Regions from separate parts of the Homo sapiens genome. Here region 1 is linked to region 2. The links come from fine-mapping of genetic effects on gene expression. Tissue or cell type: whole blood. Region 2 holds a variant in brackets; the other region holds the start of a gene. All regions are shown on one strand. Distances are from middle to middle.

Evidence for each region. PIP is the estimated chance that this variant, and not a neighbour inherited with it, causes the effect.
Region 1: RAI2 starts here. The variant in region 2 is fine-mapped to the expression of RAI2 in whole blood (TOPMed, PIP 0.94).

What each region holds. Positions count from the first base shown.
Region 1 is chrX:17,857,103-17,867,161 of GRCh38, forward strand. It overlaps RAI2 (retinoic acid induced 2), which reads right to left and starts at 4,196. Exons shown (of 2, transcript NM_021785.6): 1 at 3,996-4,196.
Region 2 is chrX:17,805,564-17,815,622 of GRCh38, forward strand. The region is part of intron 1 of RAI2 (retinoic acid induced 2); the gene reads right to left. Among named protein-coding and RNA genes, the nearest start is that of RAI2, 51 kb to the right of the region's middle. The variant T/TG (reference allele first, on the strand shown) is at 4,428.

The sequences.
Region 1 (10,059 bases), 52 kb after region 2:
CATTCTCCAAAGACAAGAGCTGCCAACTCTACAGCAAGGATGTCACCCTGATCCCCAAATCAAGCTTAATTCAGAATCCCACGCAGGCTTTTGTGTGTGGGAAGAGTGCAATTAGCCATCTTTCCCCCTCATTCTCTGAGGTCTCCCTCATATTCTGTTCAGGGAGGCAGCATTGAGGAGCTCCTCATACATAGATTCAAAGCCCAGCTCCCTCGGTGGCTCCAGAATTTCTAGGAGTTTGAAGACTACCACCTGGTTGGAAGGGGGCTACGGGGCTTGCTTTAACGATACATTTGCATAGCAAGTTCCCTCCTCATTTTCCTATAGAGTGTTTGTTTATTTGAGACAGTTTCTAGTTAAAAATACCTCACCCAGCCTTTGGTCCCTCGTGGACTTTGAGTTAGTTGCTTAACCTTTCTGAGCCTTAGTTTCCTCACCTACAAGATGGGAATAATCTTGCCCATCTCCCATGGATTTTGTAAAGATTAAACTGGGGCTTGTCAGCATGGAGCTACCAAGGGCTAAAACTGGAATATGACACCAGGAACTTCAGGCCCCCAACCAAACGTACAAATCTCTGGATCTCTCCTTGCTGGGTCTCCCTTAACAATGATCTACAGCCCCCTCCCCACTGCCATTCACTCCATCAGTGCCATCATTTAGTCACTCAACTCTCATTTATTAAGCAACAGTTGGGTGGTGGGGACTCCAAGATGAAAGGGTACAGTCTGTCCATCTGACACAGGGTATTTCGGATCTATCTACTTGGCACATAAGTATGCACTGTGGGTGACTGGGTTGCCCACTGGTGGGCTTCCACCTTCCCCCCAATCCCCACCAACTGTGTACCAGATTTTGCCAAGGTGGAGGGGCTGAAAGATCCAGCAGGAAGAGATCCAGAGATTTGTATGTTTGGTTAGGGGCCTGGAGTTCCTGGTGTCATACTCCAGTTTTAGTCCTTCGTGGTTCCATGCTGACGTGTCCCACTTTAATCTTTACAACGTCTATGTGAGATGGGAAAGATTATTCCCATCTTGTAGGTAAGGAAACTGAGGTTCAGACAGGTTAAGAGAAATAAATAAGAGACCTGGAGCAGGGGAATAGGGACATGTTGCCCCTTTAAATCATAACCACCAAAGTCTGAAATCAGATACACAACTGGAAATTTATCTGAGCCTCAGATTCCTTATCTGTAAAATAATTCTTCCATCACAGGGTGGCTGAGAAGGTTTACCACATGTGAAGTGCCTAGCAGACAGAGGCCAACAATACATGTTAGTTCCCTTCCCAATTTATTTCCCTCCACTACCATCCTCTCCAAAATTCTAAGCTTAGGGGAGAAGCCAGAGAACAGACGTTTCCTATTTTCTTATCATAAATTTGGAGCACGCTGTGCAGGGCTTTCTGCACATCCAGAGTATCTCCATTCTGGATCAATGGATTTGGGAGGCCAGTCCTATCCTCAGCTTCTGGGTCATTACAGCTAGAGCACTCCCAGCAACAGCTCCTCACACACCTTCCAGTCTTTGATTTTTCTTTCTTGTAGTTCAGATGGTCCTGTTTCAGGGACTCTGTATTCTGGATACAAGATTTTGAAATGTGTCTTACAGTTCTTCCCCAGCTGCCCACCAAACCGTGTTCTCACCCCAGCGATCGGCATCGCTTGGAAAACTGTCTTTTCATTTGTTCCTCAGATGAACAGGTTTTCCTGGGCAAAACATCACCACTGGAGGTCTTGGCTTTTTTTCATCATAAAGGAACCCCCTCGGGTGGCTGAATGGTCCCCTGGGCTGGTGCCAAAGTAGTCACTACCCCCAAGTTCCAGTCTGACTTGGTTCATAGTGCCTGGGCTGCCCTGGGGATGCCTCTAGTGGGCATCTGTCAGGACGAGAAGCGAGTGCCCATTTGAAGGAGACTGTGTGTATGTGGGGGTGTGGGGGCAGGTGGCTTCTCTGGGCTTGTAAGAGGCAGAGAAACTGGGATGCCACCATCTTACAATTCTCTGCCTTCCAGCCCACCCCTGGCTTCTCATGTTCCCGTTTGAGAAGAAAACTAGCCTCCATACTGTCCCCTTCCGTATTGTCCCCCTCCCACCTTGCCACCCCTCTACTGTAACAAAGGCATGTCCACACCACATTTTCAAAGTTGTCACAAGTCTCTCGGTCCACCAACAACCAATTCTGATGACTCCAAAGGAGCAAGAGAGACATCCAGAAAACGGTGGGAAAGATTCCCTGGGAAAAGCACAGAAAACCTTGCCTGATGCTTGCAAGGCTAAGAATTGTTTTCTCCCTGCTGGCTGCTTTTCTCTCTGTTCTAAAGAGAAGCTTCCAAGAATCAGTTAAATAAAGGGATCACACCAGAGGATGCGAGATAATGCTAAACCAACAAAAACAAAGACCCAAATGAAACAGACAGAGCCATGAGAATACGCGGTTATCAAAACTTTGTTTGGCCATATCTATTTATCATCGCTGCACACCCGGGCTCTGCGGAATATCATTCTGTTGATGTCACTTATCCTCAGCAAAATATTTACACATCCTTAAAAACGCCAGATGAGGGGGGCCGGCCCGCGCACTGCCGCAAGCCGCCCCTCAAACCCCATCGCTGGGTTCTGAACAGCCCACGACATAGGGGCACGACGGTGGGTGGCACCAGCGGGCACAGGTGAGAGCTACCAACAGTTCCGGGAACACGGTCACCCAGACGCTGCGCCGTGCCCTCCCCACCTCTCCCCTACCTGACTCTGCAAGCAGCAGCCACATACCCGATATGGTGTCGGCGCCTCCTTGTCCTCCTCTCCTGCCTTTTTCATTGATTAAGTTCTCAAACCATTGTTAAAGCTGGGTTGCTTTTTCCTTGGAAAACTGGGCTAAATTCATTAAGCTTCCCTCTGCCACAAAAGGAATATTCATAAAAGTTTGGCAGGCAGAAAGGGAGACTGAGTGAGTGCCATGGTGTGGGTAACAACCCGCTCCTCCAAAGCCACCTTCTTCTTCCGTGCCCCATCCCTCTCTCCATCCATCCGTCGTGCCCCAAACCTACTCCAAGGACTTCTGATAGGGAAACACAAAGCAGCAGCTGTTTGGCAACATTTCTACCCCTCGCCAGCAACTGTGGTGGGATGCCATTTCCCCACCCAGGCGGAGCTTATCCTGAACAATAGTCGGGCTTTAAATGGCAAACAAGCAAACACACAGAGCACAACCCCAACCCCGAAAAAGCCACCGCGGAGAGAAGCAATAACTCCCTCCGCAGCAAAAGGCGCCACTGAAACGCACGCAAAAATGCAGCGAGAACGTTGCTCGGTGCCTAACATGGCAGAAAGCCCGAGCTGGTGCGGCCACCCCGGGGCTGGGCATTGGGGGGCACCGGGGCTCCCGGGGCGCCGACGCACACTCACCCGGCTCCGGGGGGGATGCGGGGCTGGCCGCGCGTCACAAAGAGGAGCCCGGCGCAATCTGGCAAAACCCAACTTTCCACCAGGCTCGCCAGGGCCGCCAGATACGTCAACAGAATCCATCTTTCGAAGGGCCTGGAAGGCGCCGGGTTTTCCGGGCCGGGGCAGAACGGCAGATCCGGAGACTGCCCGGTGCGGTGCCTGGGCGCGGAGTCCGCCGTGCACCGCCCTCTGCGCCCGATGCCAGTGCGGGCGGCGGCCCGAAACCCACTTCGGGGCCCCCGCCCCGCCGGCCGGCGCCGCCTCCCCGGCAGTCCCCGGCCCCGCCGGCCAGTGCGCGGCGCCGGGAACGGGAGCGGGGCCCCGGCGCGCCACACGGGCGGCGGCCTCGGCCCGCGTCCCCGCCCCCGCCCGGCCCTCCCAGCCGGCCCCGGCCTCCGGGCGCCGTCCTGCCCCCGGGAGCAGGCCCCTCCCCGGGCGCCGGGCCCCGCCAGGCGCGCCCAGCCCGGCGCGCCCCCTGCGTCCCGGTGGCAGCTCCGCGCGGGGAGGGCGGGGGTGACCCCGGCCCGCACGGGGGCGCCGCGGCCACTACCTCGCAATCGCGGCCGCCGCCTCCAGGAAGCCGCGGGGTGGTCGAGTGTGCTGGAACTCTCCGGTCTGGCCTCGCCGCCGGCCGCCTGAAGGGGGTGCGCCGCGGTGGGAGCCGCCGTCGCCGCTGTCACCGAGTCGCTGTCGCCGCCGCCGCTGCTGGTTGTGCGTGAGCGTGTGTGCGCCTGTGTCCTGGCGAGTGTGTGTCTGCGTGCGGCGCCCGGCCTTTACTATATACACCAAGGGGTGGGAGGAGGCGGGGAAGGGGAGGGCTTGGGGGAGGCGGCGGAGGAGGGGGAGCAGGAGGGGGGCGAAAGGGTACCCGAGGAGGCGGCGGCGGAGGAGGGACAGGTGATCTCGCCCACGGGGAGGGCGTGGCCGTGGGCGGCGCGGGGTGCCAGGAAGAAGGGGTGTCGGGGCGGGGAGGAGGACCTTGGGGGGAGCGCCGGGGGAGGGCCGGAGGAGCTGGGACCCTACTGCCTCCCGGCGGGCTGGGGACCATTCCAGACCCCAGGATGGAGAAGAGCGAGGAACAGAGCCCAGAAGGGAGGAAGTGGCTGGCTGATGGAAGCGGGGGAGGTGGGAAGGGCTCAGCGATCACCCGAAAATGCCAATTGTGATACCGGTGGAGGATGCTTCTCACAAGGTGGGAGATTAGGAAAGATCAAATTAGTCCACCTACGTAATGTAATTTCCATCCAAGAGGTGATTCATGTATCAATCTAACCTTTATTAAGCGCCTAGTGTTTGCCAGATACTGGGCAAAGAACTGGAGTTACAGGGACGGTGACTGTATGATTGCTGACCAGTAAATAAGTAGTAGGTGTCAGTTGTACTATTGATCATTTTAAAACTGAAAACAATAAACCCTTAGAATTCTTGAGACAGCCAAGGAAGCAACCAAATTGGTTTAATGATTCTCCAAAGATGTAAAGATTTTTTTCTATTAATCAAAACAGGATGAAGATATTTGAGAGAGAATAGCAGAGCAGAAATTATTTAATCAGAGCAGAGAATAAAATGAATCTAGTTGTTCTTGGTAGTCTCGAGCCCCCTGAAGTTCCAATACTGTGTGTATTAAACATGACTTTCCTCTTATCAAATCTGAGTTTTATAACACAGTTTATAATTAGTATGGGAGCCTGAACTTGTGTTTGAAAGGCTGTATTCTAACTATGTTGTGTTGCAAGCATAAGGTGGTAGTAACTGAGGCTGAATGATGTCTGTCTTGAGCACTTTTGCCTTTGTGGACTCCTTCCTCCGTAGAAAGATATTACAAATTACATTTTACAATTGCATTTGTGTAAAGATGAATATAATAGCATTATATATTAAAACAGTTTCTTCAACCTAAAAATTCATTTTTTCTTCTGATTTTAAAAGAAATTAAAAGATTTATGTGGGTCCCTAAACATGAGCCCCAGGCACTGTGTCTACTATGCCTAAGGGAGAAGTCAGCCCTGGTAGTACCATTCCTTGATACTGAATTTCCTCTTTTGAAAAAGAAGAGTTAAATTAAGAAGTACCCAGACCACACAGGGGTGGAAAGACACACAGTGCAAGTTTAAGAATTGATAATAATGAATATCAACAGAAAGTGTCAGTTTCTACTTGTTTCAATCAGGTTTTGGGGGGTTTAAAATCAGCCCCAACTAATTAATGATACCTGTGGAAATATTTATGAATGTGTCTTCAATCATTTCAGCAACCAAAGACTTCCTCTATAGATCTCATAACTGTTCTAAGTTCTTGGATAAGGTATGTGAGGTCTCGGTTGCCAAGACCTAGCCTGAATCCAACTAAAGACACAGCTGGGCAATTATAATTGGGCAAGTTCATGGATGAAAGATCCATAAAGGTTTTGTGTGTGTTGAGGGGGTATGTGTGTATAAGGTAGGGATTGATATCCTGGAAGGCAATTACTAGCCTATTTCTTTTGTTGGCCTCATCACAACCCTGGGTTAATGTTTGATCCTCACTGGCAGTTGTGATTCATATTTGCTGCCCTTTGAGGTGCTTATGTTTTCAGGAAAGATTATATTGATTCAGATTAATGCAGAAGAAATAGGCTTCATGGCCCCCATTCCCAAATAAACATACAGTGGCACCCTTCTGCCTTTTCATCCTGGCTGCCCTTGCAAAGGGAAGGAAAAAAGGTTCATAAAGGGTGGGTCTGGATTTGTGTGTGCGTGTGGGGTGGTGCTTTGGGACAGAAATAGGACATTAATGTGGAATAATTTTGTTCATACAGTTAAAGGGGTGCCTAAGAAAATGGAGGGAAGAAGGAACATGCCGAAACAGCAGGAAAGAACAACCTCAAAATCTTCCAGGATGGGTCAGGGTGATTTTTGAGATCTGTAATTGTAATATTTGGTGATTTTAAATAAGTACCCAAGAAATTTCCCATCCCAGATCTTATTCTTTTTACCCATATCCTCCTTCTCTCATACAGCATCTCCTTATAATCGAGTTTCCACATACTTGCCAGATGAGCGATTAGTTTGTTTATCCAATAAACATCTATTAAGCACCTACTAGCTGCACAGTCACTGAGCTAAGGATGTGGGTTAGAGATATGGTGAATACATGGTTTCTGACCCCAGTATGCTCACAGATTATTAAGAACTGTTAATAATACAATTTGACATTGTGTGGTACATGGTGAGTTATAAAATAGGCTGGGTGAACACCCAAGGAGTGGGCCTATTCCTGCACTGGGAAGGAATAGGGAATGGCATGGGGCAGGGAAGTCAGAAAAGGTTGCCAGAGATGGTGACAGTTGCTGAGTGCTGAGAGACAAATAGAAGTTTCCAAAGTAAACAAAAGGCATTATAAGTGAAGGGAACTGAAGCTGGGATGCAGAACACTATCTAGAGGCTGCAGATTTTTTGTAAGTCCAGAGTAGAGGCTGTGAGGAATAGTAGAGGAGGGGGAAAGGGAAGCTACAGGTCACTTGAAGTCCCTGGTCTGTCCTGTCAAGGAGCTTTTCCTTGCAGTCAGTGAGAACCATTGAAAGGCTTTAAGCAAGGGAATGACAAGGAAAGATTTGGATTGAGGAATGATCACTCTGTTGGTTGGTGTGGTGGGCTGATCAGAGGGAGGTGAGATTGGCAGCAGGGAGACCAGGTAAGAGAGGCTGTTGCAATGATTGGTCCTGCCAGCAGAGATGAAGAGTAGGAACTTGAGTCAGGTGGTACTTGGGATGCAGAATCAACAAGGCTTGATGATGGAGGAAACAGGAGTAAGGGTGACTGACACCTGGTTTTCTGACTTGGGTGACAGGGTGGGTGGGGGCGTGGTCACTGAGATAGAGGTCCCTAGGAAGAGAAGCAGATTTGGGGCTGGCAATGACAAGTGTCGTAGGTTCCCCCAGAAGCATATCCTGAGACAAGGATTCCAGTGCAGAAAGTTGATTTGGGAACTGAAGGAAACACTGTAGGGGAGGAGGGAAGGAAGCCAGAGGGACAGCCATCAATGGGAGGCATGTTCACAAGGCCAGTTACCACTGTGAGCAACTGGAGCTTAATCCCACAGGCAAACTCTTGGACAGGATACCAAGCACCCACTCCAGAGATGAAGAAGCTAGTTAAGAGCAGTCCAGGGGGTGCTGATTTTCTGGCAATTCCAACCTACCACCCAGCATAGGCAGAAGATCCTTCCCAAATACAGAGAGAAGATCCTGGCAGCTGGATGTCTGTGGAGCACATTAAAGTGGTAGCACCCAAGGGATGTGGGTGGTGCATCATCAGTATCTGCTCCAGGGAGTTCTGGTTAAGACATCTCGAATTGGAGGTGCCTGTTGATTAGCCGCGTAGAGCTGTCCAGTAGGCATTTGGAAGAGTAGATCTGGAGTTCAAAATTTAAGTTGCAGACCAGGATTTTGGAGTTGTTAGGCCCCGGGTGTTGGTTGAACCAGTATTACTTGGTGAACTCTGTAGAAGACATGTGTGAATTGGGCTGGTGGCTGAGCCCTTCACCCTGGGGTACACCAACACAATCTGACCTCATCTTTATGAACATGTGGGTTTCTCAAGGGGTTCCTGAAAGCCCTGAAATTGTAGATGTCAGTTTAATGCTCACCGGTGTGAATGCATCTGGGGAAATTGTCTATTGCTTTCAAGAGATTCTTAACTTCTTAAGGGGTCTATATTTTACTGAAGTGGAATAATGTATTTAAAATGGAAACTTTGTTTTACAAATGTTTTCGTGGTTAATAATATTTACTGGGTGATTGAGTGAATGAGGCAGGCATTTGAAAACATAATCACAAGGCAGAAGGAGAAATGCTGAAGAAAATGCAAGGGATAACTGAAGCACAGAGGACCGAAATCAAACCCAGGTTTAGGGAAAGAGGATGGAAAGCATTCAGAGAAACAGTCCAACGAGAATGACATTTTTACCTGAGGAATGTTCAGAGCTCATGAGGTGAGGGAAAGGTTTTGACTCTTTGGATGGGACAGAGACATCTACTGCGCTCTGCATGGGGGTGGGGAGTTTCAGTATTCTTCATCTGAGGACTTCCTATGAACTGTTTTATGCACTTTGGATAAAATTAGCAAAGACTGGATCAAAGGATATGTGAGTTGGTCCTTTAGTTTGGCAATCAGTAAGTATATACTGAACAGCTATTACTTTAAAGTACTAAGCTACCTGCTAGAAAGCAAAGAATAATAAAGTACCATCCCTGCACTGCATTGAAGCCTCTCATTGTCCAGTTGTAGCTCTGTCTAGTCTCACAAGCAGTAGAGCATTGCATTTCATAGAGATTTTTGAGAAATTATCACAAGTAAGAAGCAAGCTCATTATAAAGGGCTTTGCTTGTGGCTGCTGTATTCTGTATTCTCCATTTTTCTTTCCTAACAGAACACTAATATTCAGACTTCCATCCCTCTCCTGTGAAACCTATGTACCTTAGAATTTCATCCTATATTTAGGGTAGGTCTATTTGAGCTAAGAAAAATTGCATCCCTCTTGCTATAATTAGGGCCAAATAAATGAGAGGAGAGGTTTGCTGGGGATTCCCAGCTAAGTTCTTACTCTCTAGGAGAGCATCCCTCCCTCTCCTGATGGATGTGAGGCTAATGTAACTCCATTTGCAACTGGCAGCAAAAACATTATGCAGGTGACCACATAGTTGATCACCTAAAGCAGGATGCTACTGAGGGTGAAAGGGGTTGCTATTAACAACTATGTCAGGGGAAAAGGGATAAACTGGGTCTTTCCAGTAAACCAGGATGGATGGTCACTATTACGCTAGGAACCAGGCCTAGAAAGGAGTTGATGCTCAAGGCATCACAGCAAAAGTAGAGAAAGAACTTAGGACCATGGCTAGGTTGTGGAACTACTAGAATAAGCAGCTCTAGAGCCAGCCAACCATGCACTTCTGGTTATGTAAATTATTACACTGCTTTATAGGTTAAGCTTCTTTGAGTCAGGTCTCTATCACTCGTAATTTCATTGAAAGCATCCTAAGACATACATGCAGTAACTGGGTTGTCTTTGTTTTGTTTTACCTCCAATTCTGGGGATAAAGGCCATTCTTGAGTCAAGCAATCTGACAAAAACAAGTGTAGGGAAGAAGTAGGTTATGGATCATCATGGTAAACTGACTTTAAAGTCAAACGAAGGCGATAATCTAAACTAAAACGCGGGTGAAGGCCCACTGTGCATGGGGCGGTTTCTGTTTTAGCCATGCCTTCAAGGCACACTGCTGCCTCTGATGGAGGAGGGCAAGACTCCTGTGCAAGGGGTCAGGATGGGGAACGTCTGTCCCCTGCTCTGTCAAAGTGGCTTCGAGTAAGCTCTCCTCTCCCTCTGGGACGTAGATGCCTCACACCAGTGGTAGCCGTCCTTGCCCTTGCCTCTCATCTCTCTGAGTTGATGGTGCACGTTGAGGGAGGCCTCATGGCTTGCACCTCCTGCAGACGCCACTTTAGTTCTCCCGGTGTGGGCAGCCTGCAGTAAGTAGTTGTTGAACTCACTGCTATCTCCCTTCCCATTTGGGCTTGGTCTCTTACTCCGAAAGAGCTGGAACAGCCACTTCTCCTACAAGTATCATGACCGTCAAA
Region 2 (10,059 bases):
CCCTTGCATCCCCTGCTGTGACTCAAGTCTCTGGGAAAAACGCTGAGGCCCAGTGGGATGAAGGACAGAGGACAGGCCAAGGTGTGGGTAGAGGGGAGCAGTATGCAGGATCTCAGGGCAAAGGGGAAAAACCCCTGGCCCAAACCTCACTTCCACCTCCTTCAACAGGACAGCTCCAGATCTGCCTGACTACTCAGCCAAAGCAGGCCTGAGAGTAGCCCTGGGCTTTTCTCTAGAGAGCTGCTGGCCCTGAGACAGGCTTGCCTGCCTCCACCTAGTCCCCACCAAGTATGGCGCTGGCCTTGGGACACCCAGGCAAAGGAACATGAACTTGGCCTTCATCATGCACCCTCCCACCTCCCAGAAAGCCTCGTTCGGTCTTTCTCACTACATCTCCTCCTCTTGCTGTTCAACCTGCCAGCAAGCACCCCACTCTGACTCTGAGTCAGCAGCTGAGGTGGTCTGGGTGCATCCAGTGGGAGCATAGTGGGTGTTGCTGCTGCAGGGGCTAATACTGGAAGCCTCGGCGATGCCCTAAGAATACAAAACTATCTCATGAATTGTGGGTTCAAAGGGTGAGTCTGTGTCCCTGAGGACAAGCCAAGTAGCCAGATAGTGACTGGAGAGAAGGTGGAGGCCCATCTCCCCACTCAGACAAGCTGCTGATTAGCTTGGGCCTAGGGTGGGTGGGGGACCTCTTCAAATCAAGGAGCATCAAAGGAGCCGGTTGATGCTCAAGCCCAGGGGGCATGAATTTCTTCAGAGGTGACAGGGAACATTTCGTTTGCGTTTTGCAAAACATTTTCAAATGGGTTTAAATGAGGGCACCCATCCATTCCACCTGTCCCCATTATCCCCAGGGGTGTGGGAGTGGAGGTCAGTAAACAGTGGCAGTGTGGCTGGGTAGGAAGCAGGCAACCTGGATCTGCAAGTTGCTGGAGACCCTGGAGACCTCACCATCTTGGTTTGCAGCCAGTTGCTAGGGCCTCACCCCCATGTAGCCCATGTGCCCCCTGTATGGAGACAGTGGGGAAAAGACTCAGGGCCCAGGACAGATGAGGAGGTAGGGAGGGACTGGGAGACTAGCTCTGCTTGCAGACTTTTGGGGTGTATTAATCTGTTCTCACACTCCTATAAAGACATACCTGAGACTGGGTAATTTATTATTAAGAAAAGAGGTTTAATTGGCTCACGGTTCTGTGGGCCATACAGGCTTCTGCTTCTGGGGATCAGGAAACTTACAATCATGGCAGAAGGTGAAGGGGAAGGAAGCACATCTTCACGTGGCCGGCAAGAGGTGGGGGGAGGTGCCACACACTTTTAAACAAGCAGATTTTGTTGAGAACTCTATCGTAAGAACAGCAAGGGGGAAGTCCTATGGTCCAATCACCTCCCACTAGGCCCCTACCTCTAACACTGGAGATTACAATTTGCCGTGAGATTTGGGTGGGGATACAAAGCCAAACCATATCATGGGGTCACAGAACTGTTATCTGAACCCCTCATCTAATTATTGCAAAGATCTAATTATACCAGAGGCCGGTCTCCCTAGGGTCTGACCATTAGCCTGGAGCTCTCTCCCACCTCAGCCTTCACCCAGCCAACTCCTGCTCATCTGTCTGACTTAAGGGGTTCAGCTCTAAAGTTGCTTCTTCTGAGATCATCCCCCACCCTCACTGGGCTCCCAAAGGACCCCAACTTGACTTTGTCTAGTCCTGACTCTGCCCAGCCCATACTGGGATTTCTTATTTACTTCTTTCTCCAGGAGCAGGGGATAGTCTCCCACCTCATATCTGGCACTAGTAGGTGCTGAGGAAATATCTTCTGGATGAATTGGTGCACAAATGAACGCCTAAGCCTTCCTGAGCCTGGTGTTCTCATCCTCACCCTCTTGTCGCAGGCACACCATTTATACACTCATGGAGTGTCAAGGTGGGCAGGGACATTAAAGCTGACATCTCAAGTCTCTTGCCGACTCTTTTTATTGATGAGTAAGCTGCAACTCAAAAAGGCTGACTAAAACTTACACAAGGCCACTTCTTACAGAGGTCACCAGGCTCTTGTTTCGGGAAGAGCAGAGGGTCAGACCCGCAGGTGCCATGGTGGGAGAACATGGCAGCCACTCACCTTCACCAGCCACGGGAGGCTCTGATGGGTCAGTGTTAGATGCCCGCAACCAACAAATAGGTGGATTTTAGGACTTGGAGAATAGCCTAAATTAGAGGTCAAGTATTTTGCTTTTTAAATTAAGCCATCTATCAAGGTAAGTTTCTTCCCCTACAACAATCACATCTTAAAACATATGCTGAAAATTTTCTCAAGATATGGGTTTTCCAATTGTAAAATATCAACAGCTTTGGTTTCTATGGAGCATGGAGACGGCTATCAATTATTTCTAGTCAAAGTAGGACTGTCTACCCAAGCTTGTCCAACTGGCGGCCCAAGGGTCGCATGCGGCCCAGACGGCTTTGAATGCGGCCCACACAAATTTGTAAACTTTCTTAAAACATTATGAGATTTTTTTTGCAATTCTTTTTTTTATCTCATCAGCTATCATTAGTGTATTTTATGTGTGGTCCAAGACAATTCTTCTTCCAATGTGGCCCAGGGAAGCCAAAAGATTGAATACCCCTGGATGCCCTTGTTGCTCAAAGTGGGGTCCTTGGAGCAGCAGCAGCAGCAGCACCCAGGATCTTGCTAGAAATACAAATCTCAGGCCACAGCCCAGACCCACTGAATCAGAATCTGCCTTCCAAACAGGGCCCCAGGAGATGTGTATGCACATTAAAGTCTGAGAAGTGCTGGTCTACCACTGGTTCTCAGATTTTGCTATTCATTGGAGTAATCTGGAACTTAAAAAAAAAACCATGCCTAGGTCCTACCCCTAAGACTCTGATTTAATTATTCTAGGATGCAGCAGGTGATTCTAATGTACAGTGAGGTTGCGGACCCTTAATCTAAAGGCCAGAGCACACGACTGCTGGTCTGCTGACCTTCTCAATCGCCCATCTTCCTTCTTACTTCCCAGAAAAGACTGAGGCTATCAACACACCAAACTCCCTCCTCTTCCCCCCCGGCCCCCGCAGTGTCTCCCCATGTGCCCTCACCCCCAGGAAGACGTGAGATGGCTCTCCCTCTTGCAAGGCTGACTTCCCAGAGACCTCTGCTAAGAATCTTGCCCCTTCCATCAATGCCCTATTCTGAGTCTATTTTGTGCTTTCCATTCAGTACTTAAACCAAACCTTCAATGACTAACCTAATTCTGCATAAAAATCACCAGCCACTCTCTATGAGCCAAGTAAGAAAAGCATAATTTTCATCATTTAATTCTACATGTACATGGTTTTACCATTCGGGACTTGAGATGCACTAAATATCTAAGAAGTAATTCCAACTGGGTAACAACTGGTTTTCCTCTCCCCATAGGGTATAATAATTGTCAATTACTTGCCCCAGTGGTTAAATTTTCTAAGCTTTAAACATCAGTACAGGTCCTTTTTACCAAAGCTGTGAACATAATTACCACATGAATGTAGTCTCAAATTGGTTAAAATATGAGGAATACACAAAATAGTCACCTGCCTTATGGTCGACTGCCTTTTACATCCAGAGGTCTACACAGCCCTCTGAAGGGAATATGAATGCCCAGATTAGCTTTACAGATGAGTTCCCTGACACGCTAATTCATTTATGAAAACAGTAGTGACCACAAACATTGCAACTGGGACTAAACTTCATGAGGACGGACAGTGGCTACGGGGAAGATCTGTTAGGGAGGACAGAGTACAAATATTATCTCTGATCTGATATTTGTGAAAAATAGGAGAAGTGGAGCCAAGCGTCAGAAACTGGCCATAAACAGCAGGAGGGCCCAAGGTCTTCCCAGTGAGAGGAGGTAAGGTCATGCCCTGAGGTATCATAAAACTTATTTATGTTTGTTTTATCATCTAATCTTTTTAATTCCTGTTTTTTATTTTATAGTGTATGTAATAAATATAGGAAGGCATATAAATCTAATTATATATGTGTGTGCATGTGTGTGTGTGTTAAGGGGAGTGCTCAAAATTTTTTTTTTCTAATAGGAGTGTGAGAATGAAAACGTTACAACTCAGCAGGAGAAATGAAGCTCTCAGGGCCCAGGGAGACTTCCAGGGTGCCCCTGCCTTAACAAGTCTTAGTGTTACTGGCCCAACCTACCCCTTCTGGGTTTTTTTGTGTTTTTGGGGGGAGAGTCTCACTCTGTTGCCCAGGCTGGAGTACAGTGTGCAATCATTACTTACTGCACCCTCAACCTCCAAGACTCAAGCAACCCTCCTGCCTCAGCCTCCTAAGTAGCTGGGACTACAGGTGTGTGCCACAATGCCCACCTGATTTTTACTTTTATTTTTGTTGAGACTGGAATCTCACTATGGTACCCAGGCTGGTCT[T/TG]GAACTCCTGGCCTCAAGTAATCCTCCCACCTCGACTTCCCAAAGTGCTGGGATTACAGGCATGAGCCACCGTGCCCGGCCCCACCCCTCTTGTTTTGAAGAACAGGAACCTGAGGCTCAGAGGAGAAGTGACTTGCTCAAGTTCACACAGCATAGAGTACACTGACTCCCAGACCCGTTCTCCTTCCTTAAAGGCACATTACCCCACCTGTTGCCTCTGTTTCACATTTCAAAGGATGTTGAGGAGCACTTGAGTTTAACACACGAGCTATAGAGTCAGCACAGTCAGTCACCCAAGATTAGAACATCTCTATTGGAACCAGCATCTAACGCCAAAGTATGTGGGATGGCTTTATTCAACCAACAAAATGTCAAAAAGTTTGACAGGTGAGGAGCTTGCTCAAAAAAAGAACACCCCCATGCCTTGACTCAGTGATATCCAAAAGATAAGTCATTGAAATGAAGAGATTCAGGACACACATGAACTTTTCATGACTGTTGGAATGTTGTTTTATACATCTGGGACTCAGTTTCCTCTTTTGTAACATGGGGGACTGCCCTACTCTCACTCAGGCCTCCTTGGAGCCAGTGGTGCCTGCTGGGGAGGAGTCAAACCTAGCCTCCCAGGAGCTGCCGGAGGAGGAATTGCTGTGGGCCCCAAAGGATGGGCAAGTGGGAGCACCAAGGAGGAATTGGAGGGAGGACGCCACCAGCTCCCAGGCCTGGTTTTCCAAGCCCCTACTACCTTCAGCCTGCCCGCAAAGGATCTATGATGGGTTTGGGGGCCCACACGGGCCTGACTGCAGGGCTACAGTATGGAACTAGATTTGTGGCCATTCATTTTTATTCATTCTTTCAAAAATGATGTGGGCACCTACTGTGTGCCAGGCATGCATCTCTTATTCCTCCAACCTGATACCACTTTCTTTGTAGGCAGGTTGCCATCTCTCTTGGCTCCATTCTGAAGATATTAACCAAATCCATATTATCCCAGGATTATCTGCTTTTAACAGGGCTCCTTTAAGGCTCACATTTCCTGCAGAGGTAAAGGAGTAAGTCTCTAAGGTAAGAATGCCAGTCCCTAGACAGCTGGAAGGGGTGATATTCATGCAAGGATCTCTCTAAGGAAAGGAACAAATGTATATTTTCTAGAGATGGCTGCTCCTGATACTAACAGGAATGAACTGCCTTCCTCAGGTCTTGGCAAACCTCAGCATCACAGAAGAAAATCATAAAGAGCTGCTGGTGGTGGTAGGGAACACTCACCTGGACAGGGGACTGTGAGAGTCAGCAAGTGCCCATCCCTGCATTGGGCCAATGCCCTACAGTTCGGTTGGACACCCAGAACCCCAAGCACCCTCAGGTGCTGCTGCTGGAACAGCCATCTCATGCAGGAGCTCAGGTCACGTTTAAGGTCTTGGGCCAAGGTCTATCATCTTAAAGAGCTACGGTTTTTGGACATTTTTCTGGCAACAAAGAAACCTCTTAAATTTGGAACAAAGAGGAGGAAAAAACCTGCCTCTGGAAGAGAAAATACTTCTAATTAGATTGAGATACAAAGGTTAAATTTTTGTTCTGGGAAAAAGACTGTTTATAATCCTGTGTCATTAGCAGGACATTTTCCAGAGACCAGTGTGCCAGAAATAGACCCTCTGAGGGGTCACTGGAAGGAAGGGGTGCAGATTTCTGAAGTACAAAGAACTGGAGTTCAGATTTTCCCCTTCTTCTAATGCATGTGAATCCCTTGCCACCCTTTGGCATGGAGACAGTGTCAGCCTCACCCTGGGCCCTGGGCCCCCTATGAGAGTGGTTAGGAGTATAAGCTTTGAACTTAGACAGGCCTAGGTTCAAACTTCAGCTCTGCCTAATTTTGCTAGCTGTGTGACCTGGGGCAAGTAAGTTCTCAGCCTCAGTTTCTCTCTGTGTAAAATGATTAAAAAAAAAAACCTGTCACATTGGGTGGTTGTAATGATTAAAGGAGATAAGCTAAGTGAAGTACTTGGCACAGTGCCTGACACACAGAAAGTGCTCAGTAAATCATGGCAATTATTGTATTGTCATCATCATCACTGGTACCATCATCAATGTCATTAGCATTATTGTTGTCAGCACTGTCGATACAGTCTTCATCTTCACCATCATTCTCATTGTCAGTGCCATCATCATCATTGTGCCATTGGCATCATTGGCATCATCAGATCCACCGGCCATATTTCTTGTGAGCATCTTGAGTAGTATCACCCATGCTCCCTTTGCACCTGAATGGCTTTATTCATTCGCAACCCTGTTTGTTCAAAGATTCATGTAAAAATCAGCTACTAGGAACTAAGAAGGCACTTACCATAAGCTTGGTGTTACACCTGACGGGAAGGTTTCCAGGCCAGCCCACAAAAACCCACCTAACACCCAACATAGCTGAAATGAGCATTTGAAGTGAAAACAGAAAACAATGCTCTCCCAATGTTAGAAATTAAATATAGTGGGAAGACAAATAAATACACAAATCTGTTTCTCATTCAGACTGAAAGCCTGGGGGAGAAAGAAAAGGTGGCCAGAACCTTTTGTATCTTGAATATGGACTCATGAGCACTTTCAAGGGTTCGGAAGTTACTGCTGATTGACCGCACATAATTTCACTTCATATCCTTCAGTTTTCCTTCTCCTTTGCACGAGAGCTTAAGTAGCTCTCCTCTCCTACTTTTCAGTGGCGATGAAGCTCATTTTCTCACTCACAAAAACATGGAAGAAGTGGAAGCGGAGAGGATGAGGGTAAGGATAAGAGGGAGAGAGAAAGCAAAGAGCCTTTTTGAGGTAACTAGGCAAGAGTCGAAGGAGAGAAGATTCAAAAGTTCATGTAGGTCCAAAGGAAAGATTGGTTAGCTATAACAGAAGAGTGAAAGAACACAGAGAAACTGAGGAAAGCTGTGAGGAAAACACTGAATGAGAGTTACTTAGCTGGCCACAAGGGGATGCTGTAACCTACAATAGCTTGGTTGCAGGACAGCAGGGTGGAGGGAGAGACAGGACTGGAACTTCTTAGCACAGTGAGGACATGGTAAAAAAAATAAAATATAGCATTGTTTACAAGTCTGAGTACTGCAAGTACTTAGGGAAGGTGCTCCAAATTTGGGCAGAACTTCTCCTATGCCTCTAAAATCATCAAGCACATCCCCTTGTGGCTTGGCTGAGTTATCAGTCCCAGGAAAAAAATCTAAATGTACCTTCTTTCTGTGTCTAATATTTATTTTTGCCTACCCGCCAGCTCCTCCAATCTCTCCTTGGATAGTCAGAATTATTAGATTTCTCCCATCAAAATTGGGTTTTCCAGAAAGAAGCTGATAAACTCATTCTCAATGAGGTGCATGACTGATAAGGCTGAAGTATTATGTTCCTTTATTGGTATAATAAAGATAATCCAGCCAGTAATAAAGCTATGGACAAAGAAATGAAACTATAATTGAGTCATTTCAGATACTGGTCATGGGGAGGAACCTTCCTAGCTGTCTTGAAATCTCTCCATAGAGATAAGAACCGACAACTATGATTAAGTTTGCGGGGCCCATTGGAAGGCACCTGAGATCAAATAAAGGGGGCAGGGGCGTGACCTTGACCCTTAAGCACTCAGAACTAAGGAAGGACATGAATGTGAGTCAATTATTCATTCCTTTACAGACACAATCAGCAAACACTTATTGCTCACCCAACATGAACCTCCTGAGTACGTGCCTCCCTGGTGCAGAGATTTTAGCAGCATCCAAAGTTGTCCAGGGCCCTGTTACTGAACTGGCTACCTCCTGAAACGCTGGTTTCTGTCTTACCAGGTTTCCATGCAGAAGTTAGGGCTCTCAAAGGACTGCACTCCCATGCACAACACCCTACTGCAGCGCTACAGCCACAATGGCAACTTCATGACCATCACCTATTATGTGCTTTGAATCATTACTAACGATGGTGATGAACAGGGCAAGGGGAGTGAAGAGAGGAGGCTGTTGGGTTTTGGTGAACTCAACTAGCTAGTTGTCTTAGCTTGGGCTCCCCCACAAACAGACCCTGAGGCAAGGATTAACTGAAAGTAATTTATTTGGGAGAAGATCCCAGACAACACCAGTAGAGGAGTGAAGTGGTGAGACAGGGAAAGCAAGGAAGCCAATTTATCAAACAAGTTACCACTGTGGGCAACTGAAGCTCAATTCCACTGGGGAGACCTCAGAGTCATCTCAACCGAGAGGCTAGGAAGTTGGGCTGTTTATTCACCCGCCCCCATCCATCACTGGCCAAGGGCTGCTCCTGGAGGATGTAGTCATTCCTTGGCACTTCCAGCTAGCCCAGCATGCAGATCTAGTGTGCTCCTGAGACAAAAACCAAAAACCAAAAACTCACACCTTTAGGGAGCATCATGGATGTTTGCAGTAAGTAGCATTTGGTGTATAAGAGGCCAGTCTGGGCAGGAAATGGCAGGACACCGACAAATGTCTGCTACACCAGCCATGGCCTGGAAAGTCTCAATGCTTATGTGAATATCGAAATGTCATTAATTTAGGCCACCATGACCAAATGTTTCCCCAGTTGGTGGTACCTTCTGTAACCCCTGTGAAGAAGACACTCCTTTATAATAACAATGCTCACACTACAGGGGAATCAGCTCAAAAGGGGTGTGACTCAAGATCTTATAAAAAAAACAAGACACACGAGGGGGCCAGAGATGACTATCTTTCCAAAAGCAAAACGTTCAAGAGATGGTCAGCATAGCTAATGTGTTCCTTTGCTAAAATATAACTGGGGCCCTCCAGAAAGTTCTTTGAATCATATTTGTGCTGGCTGGAATGCAAGATGTTCCTGGGATGAGTCACAGAGGGAGTTTCTTTTCTGGTGATCTTGTGTTCCAACTCGGGGACCAAAAATCAATAAATAAACACTACTTCACTTCATCAGCTGCATGCTGCCTAATAATAATAATAATAATAATAATAATAACCTCGACCCGAGAAGTACAGACAATGCAGGAAAGAGAGGGTGAAGAGTACTCATCTTTTAGACAGGGAAGCTTCTTTCTGGAATTCTGTTTTGTCAAAAGCAGAACAACATCCTCCGCAGAATCTTAGGGTTGGTGAGGCTTTTGAAGTCCCTAAAAACTCACTGTATGTGTCCTAAAGCAAGTATCATGGTTGGAGCTAATATAGCATAAACAATACGAAGTTGGGGTGGGGGAAGGAAAAAGATCGGCTGTATAACATCTGGCTAGTTAGCAATAACGATTATAGGTATTATTTCCTATTTTATTGGGGGAAGAGTTCCAGAATGCATGTGTTTGCACACATACATGTGCACACGTGCACACACACACACACACACACACACACACACACACACACAGAGTGGCCAAGTAGGAGTGAAGCCACCTGTTGTCCCTCTAATAGTCAAGGGGGATCCTTAAATCAGGATTCTCCCTCCTCACCTGTTCCACCTCAGGTATTTTTTTCCCTCTGAATTCCAGTCATCAAATCTTTATTGTTGCAGCTGACCTGTGAACTGGACCTTGCCACATGAGTAGGATTTTGGCGCAGGAGATGGTGGAATGGAGGAGGGTTTTCCAAAAGTGCAGGACAGAAGGAAAGGCAGAAGAGGACAGGTG